4 linked regions of the Homo sapiens genome follow. The protein of the gene in region 3 purifies or fractionates together with the protein of the main gene of each other region. This does not show direct contact. Each region holds a gene or a part of one and is shown on either strand. Other genes may lie near its edges.

Evidence for each region. The genes of interacting proteins can lie anywhere in the genome.
Region 1: the proteins of OTUD3 (region 3) and TEX264 purify together in Homo sapiens (affinity purification with western blotting, with the first as the bait; one study listed by BioGRID). This does not show direct contact.
Region 2: the proteins of OTUD3 (region 3) and PLS1 purify together in Homo sapiens (affinity purification with mass spectrometry; one large-scale study listed by BioGRID and IntAct). This does not show direct contact.
Region 4: the proteins of OTUD3 (region 3) and MIB1 purify together in Homo sapiens (affinity purification with mass spectrometry; one large-scale study listed by BioGRID and IntAct). This does not show direct contact.

What each region holds. Positions count from the first base shown.
Region 1 is NC_000003.12:51,674,244-51,677,816, forward strand, and holds part of TEX264 (testis-expressed protein 264), read left to right. Parts: intron 1-27; coding exon of another isoform or gene 28-61; coding exon 62-319; intron 320-3,573. UniProt on the Homo sapiens protein: Major reticulophagy (also called ER-phagy) receptor that acts independently of other candidate reticulophagy receptors to remodel subdomains of the endoplasmic reticulum into autophagosomes upon nutrient stress, which then fuse with lysosomes for endoplasmic reticulum turnover.
Region 2 is NC_000003.12:142,683,385-142,686,957, reverse strand, and holds part of PLS1 (plastin-1), read right to left. Parts: intron 2,953-3,573; coding exon 2,787-2,952; intron 2,706-2,786; coding exon 2,563-2,705; intron 675-2,562; coding exon 582-674; intron 1-581. UniProt on the Homo sapiens protein: Actin-bundling protein. In the inner ear, it is required for stereocilia formation. Mediates liquid packing of actin filaments that is necessary for stereocilia to grow to their proper dimensions.
Region 3 is NC_000001.11:19,895,846-19,899,418, reverse strand, and holds part of OTUD3 (OTU domain-containing protein 3), read right to left. Parts: intron 1,880-3,573; coding exon 1,757-1,879; intron 1-1,756.
Region 4 is NC_000018.10:21,813,784-21,817,356, reverse strand, and holds part of MIB1 (E3 ubiquitin-protein ligase MIB1), read right to left. Parts: exon of another isoform or gene 3,462-3,573; coding exon of another isoform or gene 3,453-3,461; intron 1,742-3,452; coding exon 1,544-1,741; intron 1-1,543. UniProt on the Homo sapiens protein: E3 ubiquitin-protein ligase that mediates ubiquitination of Delta receptors, which act as ligands of Notch proteins.

The sequences.
Region 1 (3,573 bases), on a different chromosome or scaffold from region 3:
CTCCTCTCCCTTCTTTCTCCTTTGCAGCTGCCTTGAGGTGCAGTGTTGGGGATCCAGAGCCATGTCGGACCTGCTACTACTGGGCCTGATTGGGGGCCTGACTCTCTTACTGCTGCTGACGCTGCTGGCCTTTGCCGGGTACTCAGGGCTACTGGCTGGGGTGGAAGTGAGTGCTGGGTCACCCCCCATCCGCAACGTCACTGTGGCCTACAAGTTCCACATGGGGCTCTATGGTGAGACTGGGCGGCTTTTCACTGAGAGCTGCAGCATCTCTCCCAAGCTCCGCTCCATCGCTGTCTACTATGACAACCCCCACATGGTAAGGAGTCTCCATGGGGTTCTGCCCCATGGATGGGCCTGGTGGGCCAGGGCTTCTTTGGGGAGGGTAGTTTTGGTTGCTGAGGAAAGGGTGGGAGAATCTTCAAGCTGGCCCTGCAGACCCCTCCTCTATGAGCTTGAAGCACCTTCCAGATTTAGCCTGGACTTCTGCTCCCGGCATCCATTTGTGGGCTTTCTATTTGCCCAGGTCTGGTTCCCCTTGCCCATGGCTACTTGTGGATTTCCAAATGCAGTGGACTATACCACCATGAATCCCTGGCTTCTGCCAGGACTTTGGTCCCCTGCCTCCTCTTCTTGTCATCCCTCCTTCCATCTCCATTTGGGGCCAGTGCTCTAAGGCCAGGCCATTCAGATTCTGCCCACTCTTTGGGGTTACATCTTGCTGTTTCTGTGCTTTCCATCCCTCAGCTCTTCTGCCATAGTTGTAGGCCCTTGAGGGCTGAGAGGGCAGTCCCTGGGGATGGGGCTTGGAATCTTACCTCTTCAGCCATTCTGATGCCCCTCAACCTGGTGATATGGCATTTCCTTAGACCTCAAGCTGGTGCTGGGAGATGGCCAAGGGGGCTAGTGGAGCCAGATGAGTTACTTAGAATGTTCAGAATGCTGAAGTCAAAAACTAATCCAGCATCACTAGCACCCTGTGAGCGTCTGGCTGTTCTTACAACCTATGGTGAGTCAGAGCTTGCTAATGTAACCTACTGCTATGCTATGGGGTGGTGCTGCCCACAGCTGGATGGGCTGGCAGCTCTGTCAAGGGTTCTTCAGCCTCTACTACTAAGCCATGCCAAACCAAGCATTTGGAATCCCCAGCTCTGATTTCCTTGCCTGGAGAGCTCAAGTGCACAAGTCCTGCAGTCTACCCAATGTGTGCTGACCGGCTTACTGGGGCACTAGTTGAAACAGGATGTACTGGTTCCCTCTCTGTGCCAGGTTCTACTCTACACCTACACTCTGGAGATGAATCAGACCTGGCTCTGCCCTCAGGAAGCTCTGTGTGGCTGACATGTCAGCCCCACATAAGTGATTCTCCAACAAGACACTGTGCTTGATGTCCACAGAACTTTGAGCTGTAGGTTCAGGGAGGCTGCCATGAGTCTGCTGGGGAGGCTCAGAGAAGGGGTAGATTTCAGCTGGGCCTTCTCATGTAAGTAGAATTTTGCTTTGTTGGGAAGGGGTACTTGGCTAAGAAAACTGTGACAGCAAGAGCCTGAAGACATGGGATGACCAGAGAATTGTGGTTAGTAGACATGTCTTGGGTGGAGAAAGGTGGAAGGGTTTGCCCAGCCAGGTGGTGGGGAAGTACAGCAGGTTGAGAAGAAGGATGTGGCACAATTTGCCACCTTTGTTTTAGGAAGTTAGCTGAAGGGCAGGTGGAGGAGGGAAGGAGATGAGGCAGGAGGCCGTAGAAGAGATTGGGCTGGGTCCAGGTGAGAGGCGACATGGGTTGGTTGAGGTTTTGCAGTCACATGGCCAGGAGATGGCACTAACTGAAGTTGGGAGCACTGGAGCCTGAGTGGGATGGGACAGACAGTGGGCTATGGGGAGCTCCTAGAGCAGATGTGTGACCCTCACCCCTTCAAGGGCTCCGTTGTGTAAGGCCCTGCCCCCCCTTCCACACCTGGCCCAGTCAGAGCCTTCTGCAAGAAGAGTCCTTGCAGCTGGCTGTCTTCTCATTGGCGTGTCTGCCTGTTCTGGAATCAACAGGTTGCCTCTTGGGTTGGAGGTGCTAATTCCTGGATGGGAAAGGGCTAAGGCAGCAGGGTACCCTGGGGTCAGTGCTGGAGGCTGGTCTAGGGAAGAGTGAGATGGAAGAAGCCTGGCATGGGATATTCTGGCCTGGCCACTGCCTCCTGCAGCTTTCCCAGAGATGTGGTGGACCCCATGGGGTGGGCCCTGGGTCTCCAGGGTTGGTTGGTCATAGTCTGACTAGGGTGCTTGTCTGGGGGACTGTGGCCTGAGAGCACAGCCTTGAGGCTAGCAGTCCCGAGTTCTGATTCTGTCCCATCACTGTCCTGCTGAGTGATCTTAGGCATATCCCATAATGTTTCTGAGCCTCTATTTCCTTGTCTGCAGAGTAATGATAAAATACCTGCTTCATAGTAGACTGAGAAGAGTTAAGTGATATAGGTGAGGCATTTACCCCAGCACTTAGCCCTCAACAGATGCTTAACAACAACAAAGATGGGTGGGAAAACCACTTGTGCTAACATATGCTGAGAGGTCAGACTGAGCAAACCTAGACCCTTGGCCTGGCTGTGGTCATTTGGGTGGCACAGAGGATGATGAACAAGTCAAGGTGGCCCTTCTGACCCTGCCCATCCCAGTCCTGGGTCAGTCCAGAAGACACCTGTGTCCCCATTTAGAGCTAGGTCACACTTGGCACCTGGGATGGCTCAGGGACACTTGGGTCCCCATTTACTCTTGGAGCTGGTCAGTGCATTCTCTGCCTGACAGAGATTGTAACAGGTTCAGGGAACCATGGACCCCCAGGCTTCAGGTGCTCGTGGCTATCACAGACTGGTCCGGAAGGACCTGAGGCCTCCTGGTCCACACTCCATATTATGGAGGGAGAAACAGATTCAGATAGTAGGAGAAAGGCACTGATCTCATATGTTTTTGTTTTCATTTAACAAATATCTGAGCACCTGCTCTGTACCAGGCTCTGTGTTGGGCACTAGGGTACCATGGGGACCAGGACCTGCCAGTGTGTGGGTGTTAGGAGCCTAGAGGAAAGGCCCCATCCTGGTCCTGGAGTGGGCTGAGAACCAAAGGTTTTTGTCCCCTAGGCTGCCTCCACCAGCAGTGTGCAGCGTGGCATGCTCTGGTTCTCAGAGAAAGAGAATAGAGGCTGACCTGTTCAGTGTCCCACCCCCACTGTGTCCTTCCCTAGCCCAGAGTGACAGGAGCCAGAACCTGCTTCTCTGTGAGTGTGGGGAGGCAGTGAGGCTGTGTCAGGCTCTGTGAGTGGGGTGGTGAGTAACCAGGTGAGAGGTGCCACCTGGCTTTAGATGCTGCCCACCCCATGAGGTGTGACGGACAGCTCCCTAGCCATGCCTCGTCCTGTCCTCAGCTGGGCAGGGAGTAGGCTGGTCCCACCTAGGCTGGGTGTGGACCCAGGAAGTAGCACAAGAAAGGGTACCACTAAGATTGGACAGTGGCAGTTGGTGTGGACCTGTTCATAGTAGCTGCTGCTGGAGCTGTTAGCCTTGTGCCCTGGAGTCCTGTATGGGAAGA
Region 2 (3,573 bases), on a different chromosome or scaffold from region 3:
GCTTAAAAATCTAACAACAGGTTGTTGCTTCCTTTCCTGGCATATGCTGACAGTCAAAAGAGCACCCTGGTGAGTTCCAATTGCCTTGCACCAGGGAAACATGAATGTAGGATTGATTCCACAAATACTCCAGGTCACAATTACGCAGTTCCCTTTCTTCCGTCATGATAGCCAGTTGGCTTGACATGGAGGCTTGGAGCCTTGGGCATGGAAAAAACTTCCATAGAGCAAAGCACCAAACTTTAATGGAGGGCTGAGGGCTCTACTGGGGAATGCTGCTTGTAGAGAACTGTACTCTAAATTTGACTGTACCTGCTACTGAAATTCAAATTCATAGTCAAAAAGTAGAACAGTAGTTACCAGGGCCTGGGGGAAGGGGAAAATGGGGAGTTATTGTTTAATGAGTACAGAATTTCCCTACAGGATGATGAAAAGTTTGTAGAGATGGATAATGGTGATAGCTGCACAACAATGCAAATGTACTGAATGCCACTGAACTGAACACTGAAAATGATAAAAATGGTAAATTTTCTACGTCTGTTTTACCACAATATATTTTAAAAGTTAAAAATTGCACTCACATTAATTCCTGAAAGGTCAATGGCAATGGCAGGTCCATCTTCCCCACCTTTAGGGGCAATCTGATTAAGCAGATGAAAATAGGCTCTCGAGTCCTTCAAGGAAAGATATGAAATAGCATTTTTAAAACGAATAAAATCATCATTGAATTTAGGGAAAACAAGTGCTCAAACTGAAGAAATTGCCTCTATCTCAAAGAATGGAATAACTTTAAAAATAAAGAATTACTTGTAGGTTCCTGAATGTACCATGCTGTTTCACACTTCAGAGCTTCAAAGCAATCCTGTTTCACACCTCAGAGTTTATAGCAATGCTGTTTCCTGCACCTGGATACCCTCCCTTACTTTTCCATCTGTTTACACACCCAAGCATCAACATCAGTTAAGATTCAGGTCAAGTATTATCTCCCGTATGCCTTCCCTGGATTCTCTAGGATGAACTAAGAACCCCTCTTCTGTAGTGCACAGCACCCCTTGCCTATCTTAATAAGTAAACAGTGATCACACTATTAAATCATCTAATGTCATTGTCTCCAAAGATGGATATATAGTTCTTCCCCATGCATACATTAACTCTTCCCACCAAAAGGCAGAAGCTATTTCCTGTCCTCTTTAATTTGGACAGGCCTTATGATTCACGTTAACTAAGAGAATGCTGTGAAAGTGATGTTCTGGGGCTTCCACGCCCAAATCTTAAGAGCTTCTGCTTCCTCTCTCTTAAAGTTAACCTCTACATAAGAAGTCCAACTATCTGAGACTATCATGCTGTGAGGAAGCCTGAGCTCACCATGTAGAGAGGCCTTGTGGAGGAGCACTGAGGCACCAGACATGTGACTGAGGCCTTTGTGTACTTTCCAGATGAGCCCAACTGACAGCTGAATGTAATCGAGTTAGTAATCCCAGCCAAAACCATGTGAAGCAGAAGAACCACCCAGCCAAGATGCATCAACCCACAAAATGATGAGAAATAATCATTATTTAAGCAAATTTTGCATAATTTGCTATATAGCAATAGATAACTGAAATATCCCTCTGGTACATGTTTGTCTCTGAGTAGAATTGGCAAGCTTCTCAAGAGCTGAGTCTTTGCATCGCCTGGGCATAATGCCCCTCAGAAAGAGCTGAATAAATGTTTGATTAGCTGAATTTTCAGAGATTTCAGAATAAGAGAAATCTCCCAAATAAACTTTCAAATATAACAGTGTATAGTAGATGAAAGCAGAGAAATAAAATGTCACTTCAAATTGAGAGACTGTCCTGTAGGCCATTATGGAAAAAGATAACCTGACTGAAGGTTATATAGCTAAAGACGGAACATGAATTAGAGCCAGCACTGATTACTCTTGGGGGGCAGGATGGGGGAGGACATAAAGAAACAGAGAGAAGAAAAAAGTCACAGCGACCCGGCTTGGCAATGCCCATCCAGGCAGTAACCAAGGGAAAGTTGTCATTAGACAAAAATGCCTGTTATAGTTTCCTTGACAAGATTCTCCCAGTAGAGAGGGAAGTGTTTTAAGCTACCCTGGTTAAGGCACATACCTTAAGATCCCCTTTATTTACTGATTCTCTGTACCCTCAGATAATCTGATTTCCTGTTAGCTGGTTATTGGCAAAGTGGGAGTAAGAGTGTTAAACCAGTAAACAGATATAATTATTAGTCCAAATGAACAGACTGACATCCTCATTATAATCTAGCAGATCTCAGGCATAAAAAATGAGAAAGTGTGTTTTAATCTGTTGAGGCTAGCACCTCTTTCCTCTCACAGTCAGTTGTAGTTCTTATTAAAAGCCAATATATCTGGTTTTTAGAAAATATATATTTTGTGAATATAATTGGGGGATCTACTTCACACAGTAATGCAAATTTTCATTTTCTATCCCAAGTGTTCTTGTGAATTTAATTCAAATTTAAGTCTGAACCCCTTTTATTTTTACACTGCACATCCTTATTTCATGTCACAAATTTGAACATTTAAATATAAACCTTAATGTCTTGGCTGAAGTTGCTGATGGTATGCCATCCTGCATTGGTCAGATGGTAGTTCACCCATCGCAGCAGTAATTCCTCGGGAGAAAGCTTCATCAGCTCCTCTAGTTCCTCACCTTCATTTAACAATGCAATCAGAGCTGAGGGCAAAACAGCGAAATGTAAATTCTTCCCATAGCAAGTACATGTCAATGAACAGCAAATATTTCTAATGATCTTACCTTCATTCCTGGAAATCTCAATATCAGCAAAAAGGCCAACTTTGATGATCTGCCAGAGAAGTCCCAAGACCAAGTGAGGTTTTCCTTCTTTGAGATCTGATGCACCAATGTTGACCACTGTACAACCAATGGCTGAGGCAGAATTCAGAGCTAGGTTTAAATTTTCCTGAATTGCCAAAAAAAAAAGTACACATGAGGAAGTCCTTTCTAAGGTCTTATCTATAAAAATTATCTATAAGAAACAATGGACTGCCAAATTTCAGATTTATAAACATAATATTTATACAACGAAAATACCACTACTCAAAAAAAAAAACACATGGTTTTAACTGTTACTTTATATGCCAATGACTTTCAAATCCCTATTTCCACCCAGACCTCCTCTGAGTCTCCACTCTAAGCTGTGTATCTATATATGTACTTGGTTATGTCTACCTGGATGTTCTGCCAATACCTCAAACTCAACATGATATTTTTGTAAAGTGCTCATTTGGAAGCACTTCTTTAAAAAATGATGTACAATTAGGTTTTAAGATAATTTTAAAGTAACTCTTAAGATGGATTTTACAGATGAGGAAACTGCAGCACTGACAGTTTCCACAGTGGAAAGGCCGGGGTCTGATCCCAGCGGTCTCCCGAGCCCATCCTCTTTTTTATTTATTTTTTTTGAGACGGAGTCTCACTCTGTCACCCAAGCTGGAGTGCAATGGCACTATCTTGGCTCACTGCAAGCTCCGCCTCCTGGGCTCACGCCATTCTCCTGCCTCAGCCTCCTGAGTAGCTGAGA
Region 3 (3,573 bases):
CCAAGACATGTTAAATTTAAAAAGCACAGTGCAGGATGTATGTGTGGGATGTGTAGTATGTGTAGGATGCTACAACTAGTGGTGGGGAGAGTAAAAATGGCAAAAGTGGAATATGTGCACATCTATATATATATTTGCTTGGTATGTAAACCACAGGAGATTTTATGATATACTAATACCACTGATTGCATCCAGGGAAAACAGTGTGGCTGAAGTACAAGGGTAGGAGAGTGACTTTGACTATATATCCCATTACATATTTTGAATTCTAATCCATGGACAAATATGACCTATTCAAGAATTAAAATTGCCAGGCACCATGGCTCACACCTGTAATCCCAACATGTTGGAAGGCCAAGGCAGGAGGATCACTTGAGCCCAGGAGCTGGAGGGCAGCCTGGGCAACATAGCAAAACTTCATCTCTGCAAAAAATTAAAAAATTAACAAAGCATGGTGGCGCACACCTGTAGTCCTAGTTACTCATGAGGCCAAGGTGGGAAGATCGCTGGAGTCCACGTAGACAAGCCTGCTGTGAGCCGTGATGGTGCCACTGCACTCCAGCCTGAGCAACAGAGCGAGACCTTATCTCAAAAAATAAATAAAATTGTTTAAAAAACAATGGTTTTGGATCATGTGTAAAAACAGGAAAAAAAGGTTTATGCAATAATGCTAATTTTTTTTTTTTTTTTGAGATGGAGTTTTGCTCTTGTTGCCCAGGCTGGAGTGCAATGGTGCTATGTCGACTCACTGCAACCTCCACCTCCCAGGTACAAGTGATTCTCCTGCCTCAGCCTCCCGAGTAGCTGGGATTACAGGCATGCGCCACCACACCCGGCTAATTTTGTATTTTTAGTAGAGATGGAGTTTCTCTGTGTTGGTCAGGCTGGTCTTGAACTCCCGACCTCAGGTGATCCGCCCGCCTCGGCCTCCCAAAGTGCTGGGATTACAGGTGTGAGCCACCACGCCCGGCCAATGATGTTAATTTTTAAAAACAGGAAACAAAGCTATATAAATAAAATGTCAACCATGTTTTAATGCATTAAATTAATGGAAATCTACCAAAACAGTAACAAAATTTACATTCAGGTAGCTGAGTTGACTTTACATGCTTTTTATTTTCTTCTTTACCTTTACTATAGTTTTCAGATTTCAGATAAGAAGCATGAGTTAGGCCAGGTGCGGTGGCTCACCCCTGTAATCCCAGCAGTTTGGGAGGCCAAGGTGGGCAGATCACCTGAGGTCAGGAGCTTGAGACCAGCATGACCAACATGGAGAAACCCCATCTCTACTAAAAATACAAAATTAGCCGGGCATGGTGGCACATGCCTGTAATCCCAGCTACTAGGGAGGCTGAGGCAGGAGAATCGCTTGAACCCGGGAGGCGGAGGTTGGGTGAGCCGAGATCGCACCACTGCACTCCAGCCTGGGCAACAAGAGCGAAACTCCATCTCCAATTAAAAAAAAAAAAAAGGTGTGGATTAATTTTAAAACATAAAAATAATTTTAAAATTCCATGTATCTTATACACATACAATTGTAACTATCAACTATCAGAAAAAGCAAAATAATAATAAGCAATTTTATCTATCACTCTCACCTAAACTAAGAAATAAAAAATATTTTTAAAATCAGGCCCACAGATTCTCAATGCCAACTTTCTACAAAAACATTACTGGTTTTTAGCGCCAGATATACAGCTCTCAATCTGTTTCCTGTAGGGCGGGGAATACGGGAGAAATCCGAGGCCTCACTCACATCCGTCTGGAGATGTGCAGGTGCCTCTGAGTTGTCATTGATCCTCCGAACACTGTCGTAGTGCTCTCCATACCGATATGCGATGTGTAACTCCCTCACGCTGCTTTTCTCTGTACCACGAATCTGTAGACAAAAGAAGGGGCCATGCCAGTGAGGATCTGAACACTATCAACTTCTGGAGAGAAACACCCACCTGGACTGCTGAGGAAGCCCAGTCAGCAGGTCTATGAGACACTAATTGGGAACACACCTGGGATATGTCACAAGCAATTTCCAAACTACCTCCTTCCTATGCGTGTATGCTTCCGTATGCTTATTTAATATGTAACTCCATGGAAATAAATCATGTAAGAAATTCAAAAACCAGGGGCAGACTTGCGATGAAGTTAAATAAGCTTAAGCTTCAGAGGCTGTATTACCTCTGAGCCCCTCTAATGCACAAGCCCCTTCCAAGGGGAAGGCCCAGGGGCAGATCCAGATTTGTTGAGCTTGAAGCCCTAACTATTTGAAGGCTCTCTTTGAGGAAAAAAAAAATGCAAAATTATAAATATAAAACTGGTAGAACTTCTCCCAAGACCTAGAAAGGGAGTCCTACAAATGAGTGGCCTGATGTTTCATTAGCTTCAAGGTAAATCCACCCCTTTCGTTAAAACGAAAATAGCATTTTCTATTAACCACCTAAATGAGAAACATCAACAACAAACCCAAATCTCCTACCTACGTCAGCTTCAAAACAAAATTACATAAAGTAGTACGGCCTGTAGCGCTCAACCCTGCAGGCGCCACCCACAAGGTATTCTATGTGAACTACACCCCTGACACACAGCACAAGAATGGGGCTCCCTAGAGTTGTGCAGTACAGAAGCCCTAAGGTCTGGGCGTACCCCAAATAAAACTCGCCACGTCCAAAGAAACTCTCATTCTAACTTTGTCCCTTAGAAAGCCCAGTAATGGTTCCTTTGTTTAAACTCCAAAACATCAGCACATTCTTTTTACTGAAAATCACACATAGTAAGATACTGCCCTTACTTTAAACAGTATCCATGGTCTAAAGACAAAGCAAAAACCATGGAACAAACAGGAAGCACACAAGTCTAGATGTCAGTAGCGTGGAAGCTTTTCCAGTAGAATACGCAGATCTCAAGTGCAGAGAGTCTGGTTTAGACACATACAAAATAGAGAGCACCATTTGTCTCCCAGGAAGAGCAATGGGAAAGTAAACAGTTTATTAGAATCTTTGACATAATCCCTAAAGCACTTACATACCTAATAATAATAATATATATATATATTATGAATAGAAAACCTAACTGGAAGAATATTCACCAAATTGTTAACTGTGACTTTCACGGGCAGATTACAGAGGACTTTCACATTCTATGTTACATACATCTAGATTGTTCACAGGAGCACATATTCCAATTATAACCAGAAAAAAAATGTAGGTTTCAATATCTCCATGGTGTGAGTATAAGCCTACTCTTTATTAATGAAAGAGCCCATAACCATGAAAGTAGCAACCAATGCAGTTTCAGTTCTTAAATTTTATAAGATGCTTCACTGGGGTAGGAAGACATAGGGGGATCCAATGGAAATATTAGTAAATTTATTTTAAAAAGATGTACTTTCAATGCTCAGGAATTTATGAAAGAGAACACTACAGAAATAAATTCAAAAAAAAATTTACCTATGCAGAAATGTCTTCCACAACTACCTAGGTAACTAAGAAACTTTGGGAAAAAAGTCATCAATGGAGGAAAAGGCAAGCTGATTACTGAGTTGGTAGTGAGTATTCCCCTTCAAGGTGAGGGTCATTA
Region 4 (3,573 bases), on a different chromosome or scaffold from region 3:
GACCAGAAGTTTGAGACCAACCTGGGCATTTCTACAAAAAATTAGCCAGGCATGGCAGCTCACACCTGTAGTCCCAGCTACTCGGGAGGCTGAGGTGGGCCCTGAAGGTTGAGACTGCAATGAGCCATGATCACGCCACTGAATTCCAGCCTGGGCAACAGAGCAAGACCCTGCCTCAAAAAAAAAAAAAAAAAAAAAAAAAGAATTCCTAACCCAAGTTCAATCCAACCATCTACCATCTACCTTCTACTCCTGTATCTGGCGGCACTAAAAATCTGTAGTGTTCAACCTGAAACGGGCTTCTAACATGATTGGAACACCCTTCTGCAGGTCCCCAAGTCCTTATCACTCTTCTCAATTACTCTTTCTCTACCCACCACTCTCAACAGATGAACTTGTCTCCCATTTCAGACAAAAAACGTCAGCAGGTATAAATCACCTCTCCTTACAGATTAACACCCCCCCAATTCTTCCCTCATCCTCCAATCCTGCCTCCCACTTACAAGGACATACTCTAGATCCCAACAGTTCCAAAACAGCTGCACTTCAAAAACCTTAATTTCTAATAATTATCTAGCTGAACAAAATCTATTCTTTCAGTTCTTCTCAAGCCCTCATTCCCACTACTACTGTTCTTTATTTCTTCTCTGAGATCTATCCAATCCAGCAACCAATTCCTGGATGCTGTAAATTATCTAAACTACAAGCAGCTTATGATTCTAACCACTGCCCTACTTTTTAAAAAATCATTATTGAGTTTCCAATGGAAACAAATTATGTTTTACATATTCAAATAGTATTTCAGGGAACACTTTTATTTAAAAATAATATGTTGTTTCAAGCCTATTCGGTTAAGGAACCTAAAAGTTGGCAAATTAGATTCAGGAGCTACAAAATTACTAAGTATAGAAACTTTAATCAAACAGGTGCACAAAAGACAAGTTGCTTAGTAACCAAACTAAGCAGAAAATGGACACAGACTACATTTTCTATATATTTGTGGTTTAATTTATCTGGTTATAAAACTGTAGCTGGGGATAATCATTTCTTAGGCAATCATTGCTTCAAAAATTAGATCCTACTGTAAATCAACTCTAAAATCCTATACATTTTCCAAAACAGAAATCTCCGAAGATTACACTAACGACTATTCAAAGTCCCTAAGCTACAATAAAAGCTACAATTAAAATAATTTAAATAGTTATGAAGTAACTATTATGAAATATAGCCTATTACACTTCTTTAAGCTGTTGAGCTCACTGTCATGATCAATAAAGTTAAATCCATTCATAAGCTGATATTTTTACAAAGAAGTCCTCATTCTCCCTGCCCAATCAAAACCCAATCTATTGGCATTTTCCCTAAAAAAAAACAACTTTTTAAAAAAGAAATAGCTGCCAATTTTGTAACATCTTACGCCTTTGGTATCATTTACTATGACATATGAGAACGGTAACAAAGGAATGCTTACCATAGAACTTAATGTTTCCCTTTAATAGGATCCTAGCAATACCTGCAGGATGTGTTTCTTTAAAGGTTTTACCTGGAGACTGGGATGACAGCCAAAGTCCAATAAAGTCTTCACAACTTGAAGATGACCTTTATTGACAGCAATATGAAGTGGTGTCTGTCGGCGCTTGTTTCGAGCATTCAAATCAGCACTACCTCGATGTAGTACTTCTATAACAGCGCCTTCATCTCCAAAAGCTGCATGGTGAACTGCTCTATCACCATCTTTATCCTAATCATTAGTATTGAAATGTGAATTAGTGAATATTTTAGAAAGAAAAAAACCTTGAAGCTATAATAATATACCAAGAAGCAGATTAATTTGAGAAAAGGCAATGTAGGAAACAACAAAATAACTAGAACTTGACCAGGTGCAGTGGCTCATGCCTGTAATCCCAGCACTTTGGGAGGACAAGGCAGAAGGATCACTTGAGGCCAAGTAAACTGTAAATGTGAGTAAGATTTCCAACAATACCAATCTGGGCAACATAGCAAGATCCTGTCTTGTAGAGAGAGCCAGGCATGGTGGCACCCACCTGTAGTCCCAGCTACTTGGGAGGCTGACACAGGAGGATTGCTTGAGCCAAGGAGTTTCAAGTTACAGTGAGCTATGATCGCACCACTGCACTCTGACCGGGGCAACAGAGTGAGACCCTGTCTCTATAAAAAAATTTTTTAAAACCTAGAAACTGACTTGAACAGTGACTAACTCCCAAAGATAAATGATAAACTTAGATCATTTTATATATATGTATTTATTTATTTATATATATACATTTATATATAATTTTATATATATATATATATATATATATATATATATATATATATATATAAAACCAACAGCTTGAACTTTCAGCATTCCTCATTTATCAGCCATGATGGTAAGCCAATTTTTTTTGACATTTAAAAATTTTTACAAAGACCATTTTTGTTGTTGTTGTTGTTGTTGTTTTTAAAGAATCAGGGTCCTAGGCCAGGCGCAGTGGCTCACACCTGTAATCCCAGCACTTTGGGAGGCCAAGGCGGGCGGATCACCTGAAGTTAGGAGTTCAAGACCAGCCTGGCCAACACGGAGAAAACCCGTCTCTACTAAAATTACAAACATTAGCCAGACATGGTGGCACATGCCTGTAATCCCAGCTACCCGGGAGGCTGAGGGAGGAGAACTGCTTGAATCCGGGAGGCAGAGGTTGCAGTGAGCTGAGATCGGGCCACTGCACTCCAAGCCTGAGCGACAGAGCAAGACTGCCTCTCAATAAAAAAAGAATCAGGGTCCTGTTCTGTCACCCAGGCTGGAATGCAGTGGCAGTCATAGCTCACTGCAGCCTTTAACTCCTGGCCTTAATAAATTCTCCAACTTCAGCCTCACAAAATGCTGGGATCATAGGTGTGAGCCACCGTGCACGTCCTACAAAGATGACACAAAAAGTAAACTAAGATGAGTTGTGTGATTGAAAAAAAAAAAAAGAATGCCAAACAATGTGATCTCAACTGGCTTTAATGGGGAGCAATTTATCAACACATTAAAACTGGTTAAGTGATGAGCATACATTTTTCTGTATATTCGAGAACAGAAAAAAAATTAAATACACCATTAAAAGATAAAAACGAAGCATAAACTACCAAAATTCCATATATCAAAAATTCCAAAACTATTTCAGAAGAATCAAATAGATTTGCCTCACCTCCTGTAACAGGCATATTTCTGAAGAAATGAGAAGGCAGGAAAGACCAAATTGCTTAAATTTTTTAAAACTAAAAGAAGGTACTTTATAAAGGGGAAAAACTGCCTGCACTGCGCCATGAAGGTAGTATACATAGCTTATACCAAAAAGTATGAAAAGAAGTCTCACTGCCTTGCCAGAAGCAGATGGAAAAGGGTAGTAGGTATAAGCGTATTGCATTTATTCCAATACTGCATTGCAAATTTTAACACCCACCAAGACCATGTGTCTGTCCCTGATCCTGGTACTCTAAGACTTCCTCCATCCAAAGCAGTGGTTTCCGATTCCCAATACCACTGTGCCAGCCCCTGGTGGACTCCCTAGTTTTGCAAGGGGT